2 separate regions of the Homo sapiens genome follow, and region 2 is linked to region 1. Evidence: fine-mapped expression QTL. Tissue or cell type: cerebellum. Region 1 holds a variant in brackets; the other region holds the start of a gene. All regions are shown on one strand. Distances are from middle to middle.

What was found. PIP is the estimated chance that this variant, and not a neighbour inherited with it, causes the effect.
Region 2: it holds the start of TMEM98, and the variant in region 1 is the best candidate, but not a certain one, in a credible set for the expression of TMEM98 in cerebellum (GTEx, PIP 0.82).

Annotation. Positions count from the first base shown.
Region 1 is chr17:32,949,692-32,953,930 of GRCh38, reverse strand. No RefSeq gene overlaps it. Among named protein-coding and RNA genes, the nearest start is that of TMEM98, 24 kb to the right of the region's middle. The variant T/C (reference allele first, on the strand shown) is at 1,615.
Region 2 is chr17:32,926,416-32,930,654 of GRCh38, reverse strand. It overlaps TMEM98 (transmembrane protein 98), which reads right to left and starts at 2,502. Exons shown (of 8, transcript NM_015544.3): 1 at 2,418-2,502.

The DNA.
Region 1 (4,239 bases):
CTCATTTTCCTAACTAAAAACCAGTAATAATAGTTGCTACCCCTCCAGATCTCCCAGGCTGTTTTAAGGAATCCACAGACTCCAGTAAGATGAGTGTGGCATGTGTTCTCCTGAGGAGAGGAGATGGGGAATGAGCAAAGTCCTACCAGGTCAGGACAGAGTGATCAGTCCAACAACAACACCAACTAAGAGAAAGGATGTCCCAGAGGCCAGGAAGGGTACAGGGAGAGGGGCATGAAGAGAAGTTGATTGATGGGTACAAATATAGACTTAGATGGAAAAAATAAGATCTAGTATTCGATACATCAGCAGTGTGACTATAGTTAACATTAATCAATTGTATATTTCCAAATAGCTAGAAGAGAATAATTTGAATGTTCCTCGCTTAAAGGAAGATAAATATTTAAGGTGTTAAAGCAAATTAAATATGGCCTGAGAAGGACTCCATACTTCTATATATGAGTGATTGTGGACAAAATGTAACCCAGCTTAATAGGCAGGCAAGATTGAAAACCTAACTTAGGAGTATGCACCTGTAACAATAGCTGAGTCTTGGCCAATCCCAGTGGCCACACTTCATCTACTCATGGACTAAGTTAAACTACTCATGGACTAAGTTAAACACCAACTGTAACCAATCCAGCTGTTTCTATACCTCACTTCTTATTTCTGTACCTCACTTCCCTTTTTATAAATTTGTTCTGACCACAAGGCACCCCTGGAGTCTCTCTGAATATGCTGTGATTCTGGGGGTTGCCTGATTCATGAATCATTCATTGTTTGATTAAACTCCTTTAAATTTATTTCCACTGAAGTTTTTAACAAAGGTATTGGATGTCCCAATTACTGTGATTTGACTACATGAATGTACCAAATTATCACCTGTACCCCAAAAGTATGTATATCTAATATACATATCAATAAAAATAAATTTTTAAAAGAAGAGAAAAGGAGTCTTATTCACCCTTCATAAGACAAATGGGGCTGGGTCATCTGGAAAGACAATAAGAGAAAAGCCTCTCTCAGGGGATGTATTAGTCTGTTCTCATGCTGCTAATAAAGACATACCCAAGACTGTGTAATTTATAAAAAAAAAAAAAAAGAGGTTTAATGGACTCACAGCTCCACATGGCTGGGGAGGCCTCACAATCATGGTGGAAGAGCAAAGGACATCTTTTATGGCAGCAGACAAGAGAGAATGAGAGAGCCAAGTGAAAAGGGAAACCCCTTATAAAATCATCAGATCTCGTGAGACTTACTCACCATCATGAGAACAGTATGGGGGAAACTGCCCCCATGATTCAATTGTCTTTCACTGGGTCCTTCCCACAACACATGGGAATTATGGGAGCTACAATTCAAGATGACATTTGGGTGGGGACAGAGCCAAGCCATATCAGGGGAGGACAAAGCCAAAAGTTTCAAAGAGTAAAATTAATAATCCCATTTGCAGAAGTAAATAACAAAGAGGAGAAGGAGAAATGGTAAAGTGCTGAATTGAAGCAGAAATCACTTTTAAAAAACCAAAGAGCCAAAGTGAGAAGTCTGTATAAACAGAATCCCAGTAATTAGGAGAGACAAACGGAGTGGCAGGCAGGAAGGCAATGCCATGCA[T/C]AGACCTTCGCCAGAAATGCAAGGAGGTCAGAGGGCTGCCACAGGGTTGAGAGAGAATGCACAGGGAAAGGTGAGAAATAAGAAAGTAAGGACATCAGAACAGTGTAATCGTTCTGTTTCAGGAGCAAGGGAAGGCTCAGAGAAAGTGGGAGGCAGGCTTTAGAGGAAGACTACAGCATCATTCCAGAATGGGCCAAGCTATAAACTTAAGAAAGCACTCCCCAGGGAGTCAGAGTCTGGCAATCAAGGTCTCTATATGGCCTCAAGACCAAGAAAACCTCAGATTGCTGTCCCAGGAAAAGGAGAGGCCTAGCCAAGGCAATAATAATACATTTAGAAAGGACAGTGGGCAGCTATGGCAAGCTGGAGCCCTCCAGCTGCAGCTCCAGCTCAAGTCCCACCACAAGCACTGGCAGGAGCAGGTGAGGCTGGGGGTGCCATGCAGGATGGCAGTGGACCACTCAGCCACCATAAGGGAAAACACAGCAGGGATGACAGAGCGAGCTGTGGGAGAACCATCACATTCAGATCCATGATAAGCTTCAGACCAGACAATGAGCCAGGGACCAATGTTGGCAGGAACACTGGAGGTAAAGAAGATGCTAAACAACTGGGGAAGACAAGGGAAGGGACTGGAGAGGAGCAGGCACATGGGAGCTGAGGCTCAGACACCTGCCTTCAAAGATCACATGGAGACAGACCAAGTGAAGTATCTCCCCCAAGCAGGGATGGGCCAGCAGGGCAAACAAGGAAAGTCATCTGAGTACTTGCTGCTGGAAGAAGACACACTGAGCATCATCAGCATGTGCATTTGTGTGTTTGTGTACTTTGAAGTGTACATAGCTACATTTTTTTTTTGAGACAGCATCTTGCTCTGTGGCCCAGTCTGGAGTGCAGTGGGGCAATCTCAGCTCACTGAAACCTCCGCCTCCCAGGCTCAAGCAATTCTCCTGCCTCAGCCTCCCAAGTAGCTGGGACTACAGGCACACATCACTGTGCCTGGCTAATTTTTGTATTTTTAATAGAGACAGGGTTTCATCATGTTGGCCAGGCTGGTCTCAAACTCCTGGCCACAAGCAATCCACCCACCTCAGCCTCCCAAAGTGCTAGGATTACAGGTGTGAGCCACTGCACCCGGCCCATGGCTACAATGTTTTTGAGCATCTACTGAATGTAAAGCAGTGGGTGAGGCACATTACATACATTAGCTCCGTCAATTCACACATACACACAGACACACACACACACGATTTTGTGTAAGGCCACACAGTAAGTGGCAGAGCTGGGATTTGAATGTGTTTCTTGCATCCCAGGCCTATGCTCATAATCGCTCTTCTATTCCTTAAGATAAAAGGTAATACCATTTGACCCAGCCATCCCATTACTGGGTATATACCCAAAGGATTATAAATCATGCTGCTAATAAAGACACATGCACACGTATGTTTATTGCGGCACTATTCACAATAGCAAAGACTTGGAACCAACCCAAATGTCCATCAACGATAGACTGGATAAAGAAAATGTGACACATGTACACCATGGAATACCATGCAGCCATAAAAAAGGGTGAGTTCATGTCCTTTGTAGGGACATGGATGAAGCTGGAAACCATCATTCTCAGCAAACTATTGCAAGGACAAAAAACCAAACACCGCATGTTCTCACTCATAGGTGGGAATTGAACCATGAGAACACCTGGACACAGGAAGGGGAACATCACACACCGGGGCCTGTCGTGGGGTGGGGGGAGGGGGGAGGGATAGCATTAGGAGATATACCTAATGTAAATGACGAGTTAATGGGTGCAGCACACCAACATGGCACGTGTACACATATGTAACAAACGTGCACGTTGTGCACATGTACCCTAGAACTTAAAGTATAATAATAAAAAAATTTAAAAATTAAAAAATAAATAAATAAAATAAAAATAATAATAAACAATGGGAAGCTTTTGGAGATTTAAAAAAATAAATAAATTTTCACTTAAACTTGAAGAAAAAAATTCCCACTATGTGTCAGTCTAGGTATAATTACTAGGTATTGGAAATACAGTATTCAGCAAAAGCATATAGGGTTCAAACTTTCATAGATTTGACACAGAAAGACACTATTCAGACAATCAGGCTAATCAATATAACAAACTGATACACGTTCTGAGAAAGAAGAAATGAATCATAGTCCTAGGTGCAGGATAATCAGATGTGCACACAGCAGCTTTCCAAATGTGACCCAATCAGCCAGTCTGGGAATTCCAGGTTGACACGTTCTTATTCCTCCCTCTTCAGACAAAGGCCACAGAAATTAGATCAAGCACCTTGAATCAAGCACCACTGTTTAGCTTTCCAATGTCCTCACTCCAGAACTACAGGGAGAGGGTATACTAACATGCCTCAGTTGGCCTCCAGGGTGAAGCAAAGTTGTGGCTAAGTGAACACTTCCTCCACTCTACTAGGAACCCAGCGGTCCAGTGAGGTGCTGTAGCCCACACCTGAAGGTTCCCAAGAGCTGATTATGCACATCACGTCCCATGTTCAATGGCATCATGTTGGTACCCTGAAATCAGACATGCAGGGAGAATTTAAACTCCAAAAACAATAAGCACTACAAATCAAACAATAA
Region 2 (4,239 bases), 23 kb after region 1:
TGGAAAGCCATCCACTTACACTGAGATGGACATTCACTCTACTTTTCCTTTCTAAGGAAGAAAGAAGACTGTAAAGGTTCTGGAAAGAGTTCTAATTGCCAGTTTCAGTGTTGGAAACTTAGAACTGGCATTAAAGTGTCCATTGCCTCTTGCCAGTTTTCACTCAGGAGACTGTTTCACATCTATTTCTTTTTCTCATAGAATTCTTTTATTTGTGTACAAAAGAAGAATGAAAGAAGTCCGTGCATTTGTATATACTAGTGCACAGAATTTTTTTAGTATGAACACATCGATAGGCACAAACACACATAAAATGTAACTTGATAACAGTAGCTGCCTCTGGAGAGAGGAACTGAAGAACGGGGTCTTTCACACCTATTTTAAACTCATAAGCCAGAAGAACAAGGGCATCTCACAGAAGTACATATTCACTGTTATTTCATTGTAGGCCTCCTGCTTGTCTCTCTTTGTGCAAGCATTCTCCCCTCTCTGGGCTTTAATTTCCCCACGTGAAAAAAAGACACTCTGACTTAGGAGTCCTTAGAATACCAGGAGGGTGCTTTTCCTCTATTTGCACTTAATTCTATCCTCCATGTCTCGGAGGGTCCAAACGCTCTCGGTCACCATTCACTAAGTATTTATTGATCATCTACTATGCATCATGCACTGGAGATTGGAGATAGATAGGACAGAGACCCTGATCTTAAGGAGTTGGTGGGAGAGGCAGACAGGTGACAAACCACTTCAACTCCATGTGCCTGTGCTTCCTGCAGAAGAACACAGAAAAGAGAGTAACTGTGCTTGCATGACACTTTCTGGGAACTGACACTTTCACAGGAGTGGTGAGGCTAGAGCTGGGTTTTGAAGGATGAGCAGGAGTTTGCCAGGTAGACAAGGTTGGGACATGCCTGGCTTAAAGTGCCAAGGAAGCCTTTCTCAAAGGGCTCACAGAGCTGCTCTCCCATCTCGAGCTCACTGGACCACAAGAAGGAGAAGGCTGGCATCTGCCTCTTCTGTGTGTGTCGCTGATTTTGTGAGAGGTAGGTGGGGGAGGGGGGTAATTCTCAGGGTCCGCCTCTGTTTCTCTACGTGTGTGTTTCTCTTTACTGTCCTTTTAACCACCTCCTTTTGGCCTTTGTGTTTTCTGCCTCCTCTTATGTCTGCCTTTATCTCTGTTTCTCTTTCCAGGCATCTTTCCCTCTGCTGCTCCCGTCTCCCGCTTCTCAGTGTCTCTCCTTCCCCTCCCCCGGTCCCCAGGCCTCCAAGACCACCCACTTGGTTTCCTCTCTCTTCCTGTGCGTTCTGAGTGTTTCTCTGATCGTGTTTCTCTGGGTGTGTGTGAGCTGAGTGTGCTTCTAAGTGTGTTTCTCCGTGTGTGTTTGTGTTAGTGTGCGTGAGCTGTTTTTCTGTTTCTGTGTGTGTGAGCTGTTTCTCAGAGTGTGCTTCTGAGTGTGTGAGCTGTGTTTCTCAGAGTGTGTTTCTGAGTGTTAGCTATGTTTCTGAGTGTTTTCTGAATGTGCTTGTGTGAGCTGTTTATCTTGAGTGTGCTTGAGTGGGTGTGAGCTGATTGTGTTTCTCAGAGTATGTTTCTGAGTGTGTGTGAGCTGAATGTTTCTCCGAGTGTGCTTGTGTGTGTGAGCTGAGTGTGCTTCTGAGCGAGTGTGAACTGTTTCTCGGAGTGTGTTTCTGAGTGTGTGTGAACTGAATGTTTGAGTGTGCTTCTGTGTGTGAGCTGAGTGTTTATCTTGTGTGCCTCTGAGTGCGTGTGTTTCTGAGTGTGTGTGAACTGAATGTTTCTGAGTGTGCTTCTGTGTGTGAGCTGAGTGTTTATCTTGTGTGCTTCTGAGTGCGTGTGTTTCTGAGTGTGTGTGAACTGAATGTTTCTTAGTGTGCTTGTGTGTGTGACCTGAGTGTTTATCTTAAGTGTGCTTCTCAGTGCGTGTGAGCTGAGTGTGTTTCTCGGAGCGTGTGTTCGTGGTCCTTCTCTGCAGTCTGCGTGGCGTTTCTTTGTGTTTTTCTTTCTCTATTCTTCCCTGCGTACTGAAGAGTAAGTTTTCCTGTTTTTCTCCGTCTCTTTCTCTCTCCCTTACTTTCCCCCTTCCCCTCCGGTTCCAGAACCACAAGGACAGAACAGACCCAAGACCCTACCCGCTTCCCCGTGCTCGTCCACCCAGGACGCCCACTCTGTCCCCGGGAGGGAGGGACCCCCAGCCCGCCCGGGACGCGCCGCACGGGCCCCGGAGCGCTCCGGGGCGCGGCTCCTACTCCTTTCCCCAACTTCGGGCGCGCGGCCCCGCGGCAAGAACAAAGCTGCGGCACCCGCCTCCCCTCTCCCCGGCAGCCGGGCCAGGCCCCGCGCCCCCGCGTCCCCTTCCCCGACTCGCCGCGGCCCGCCCGGCCCGGCGGGGCTCACCCACCTCAGGCTGTGGCTCCCGGGCGCATCCCGCGACTGCCCCGCCGATGGCAAAGTCCGGGCGCGGGCGCGGGCCTGCAGCGGAGCATGCCGGGAAGCGCCGCGGCCCTAGGAATCCAGCCTCGCGCCCCCGCGCCCCGGCCCCCGGCCCCCGGCCCGCGCCAAATCCCCGCCGCCAGGCGCCGCCGTCACCGCCAGGCCCCCCGGCGGCCGGGGCAGCTGGGAGGCGGGCCCTGGCGACCCAACACCCCTTCCTCGCGCCCCCGCGGTGGCCCGTCCGGGCGGCAGACGGAGAGGGGAGCGGAGGGTCCCTGCCTGCGCCCCGCCCCGGGCTGGCGGTCCCAGGCGGCGAGCGCGGATGGGTACCGCAGGGGGGCTGGCGGCGGAGCCAGTGTGCTCCGCCACGGACTGTCCCATTGAAACCCTGCCTCTGCCACTCACTAGCTATGGACAACTTAGTTCAGCCTTTGTGCCTCGGTCTGTAAAACGGGGCTGCTGCTTGTCAGCATCCTCAGAGTTGGTATTAGGAATGATGGGATGCAGGATGCATCGGACTGCCTGGCCCAGGGTAAAGAGTGAATCGAGGGTCGCTCTTATTTACAGCCTGACCCACGGGTCAGTGAGAAGCAGGCCCACCCCTGGCGACTGCCTAGCCAGGGGCAAGAGTACAAATGCAGAGCCCTTGCTAGTAGTCTTGCTGCTTCTATTCCCACACGACTCCATCCCATACATACTGAAGGGGGTCTACTGGTTCAGGCAAACACACACCCCCTACCCTGCCATCCTTCATTCTAACGATACTCAGGCCAGGCAGGGCAGGCTGCCCTGGGTGGATGGAAGTCAGACCTTGGAAGCAGGCTCAGGGCTGTTTACACAGGGATTTCCGGAGTCCAGGGTACCAGGAGCATGATCTAGAAGGGAACATACGCTCCAGCTGGAGTGGGCCAACTAAAGCACGGGGTTCAGGGCAGGATCCCAGTGGTCCAGGTCTGAGGTCAGTATCGGTGACAGTTAACAAAGGATACAGATTGGGTCCTAGGCCGCTTGACACAGGGTCTGCAAACTGGTACCCCCAAGGCCACATCCAGCCCACAGAGGTGGTTTTTTTGGTTCATACTTTTGTTGTTTTATTTTAATTTTTTTGAGACAGAGTCTCAGTCAGTCGCCCAGGCTGGAGTGCTGTGGCACAGTCTTGGCTGTTTACGGGTGGAGGGTGTCCAGGTTCTTGCCTTTATTTATTTATTTATTTATTTATTTATTTATTTTTTGAAACAGAGTCTGGCTCTGTTGCCCAGGCTGGAGTGCAATGGCACGATCTCAGCTCACTGCAACCTCTGCCTCCTGGGTTCAAGCGATTCTCCTGCCTCAGCCCCCCAAGTAGCTGGGATTACAGGTGTGCGCCACCACGTCCCACTAATTTTTTTTGTTATTTTTAGTAGAGACGGGGTTTCGCCACGTTGGCCGGGCTGGTCTGGAACTCCTGACCTCAGGTGATCCACCCACCTCAGCTTCCCAAAGTGCTGGGATTATAGGCATGAGCCACCGCACCCGGCCTGTTCTTGTCATTTTGAACAAAGAATTAGACAAAAGGCACAAGCAAAGCAAGTAAAGAAAGAATGAAGCAACAAAAGCAGAGATTTATTGAAAACAAAAGTGCATTCCACAAGGTGGGAGCAGGCCCCTGCATATGGGCTCAAGAGCCCCTGCTGTAGAATCTTCTGGGGTCCAAATACCTCCTAGAGGTTTCCCATTGGCCACTTGGCGTTCACCCCATGTAAATGAAGTGGTGCCACAATTAGTCTGATTGGTTGTGGAAAGCAACCAAT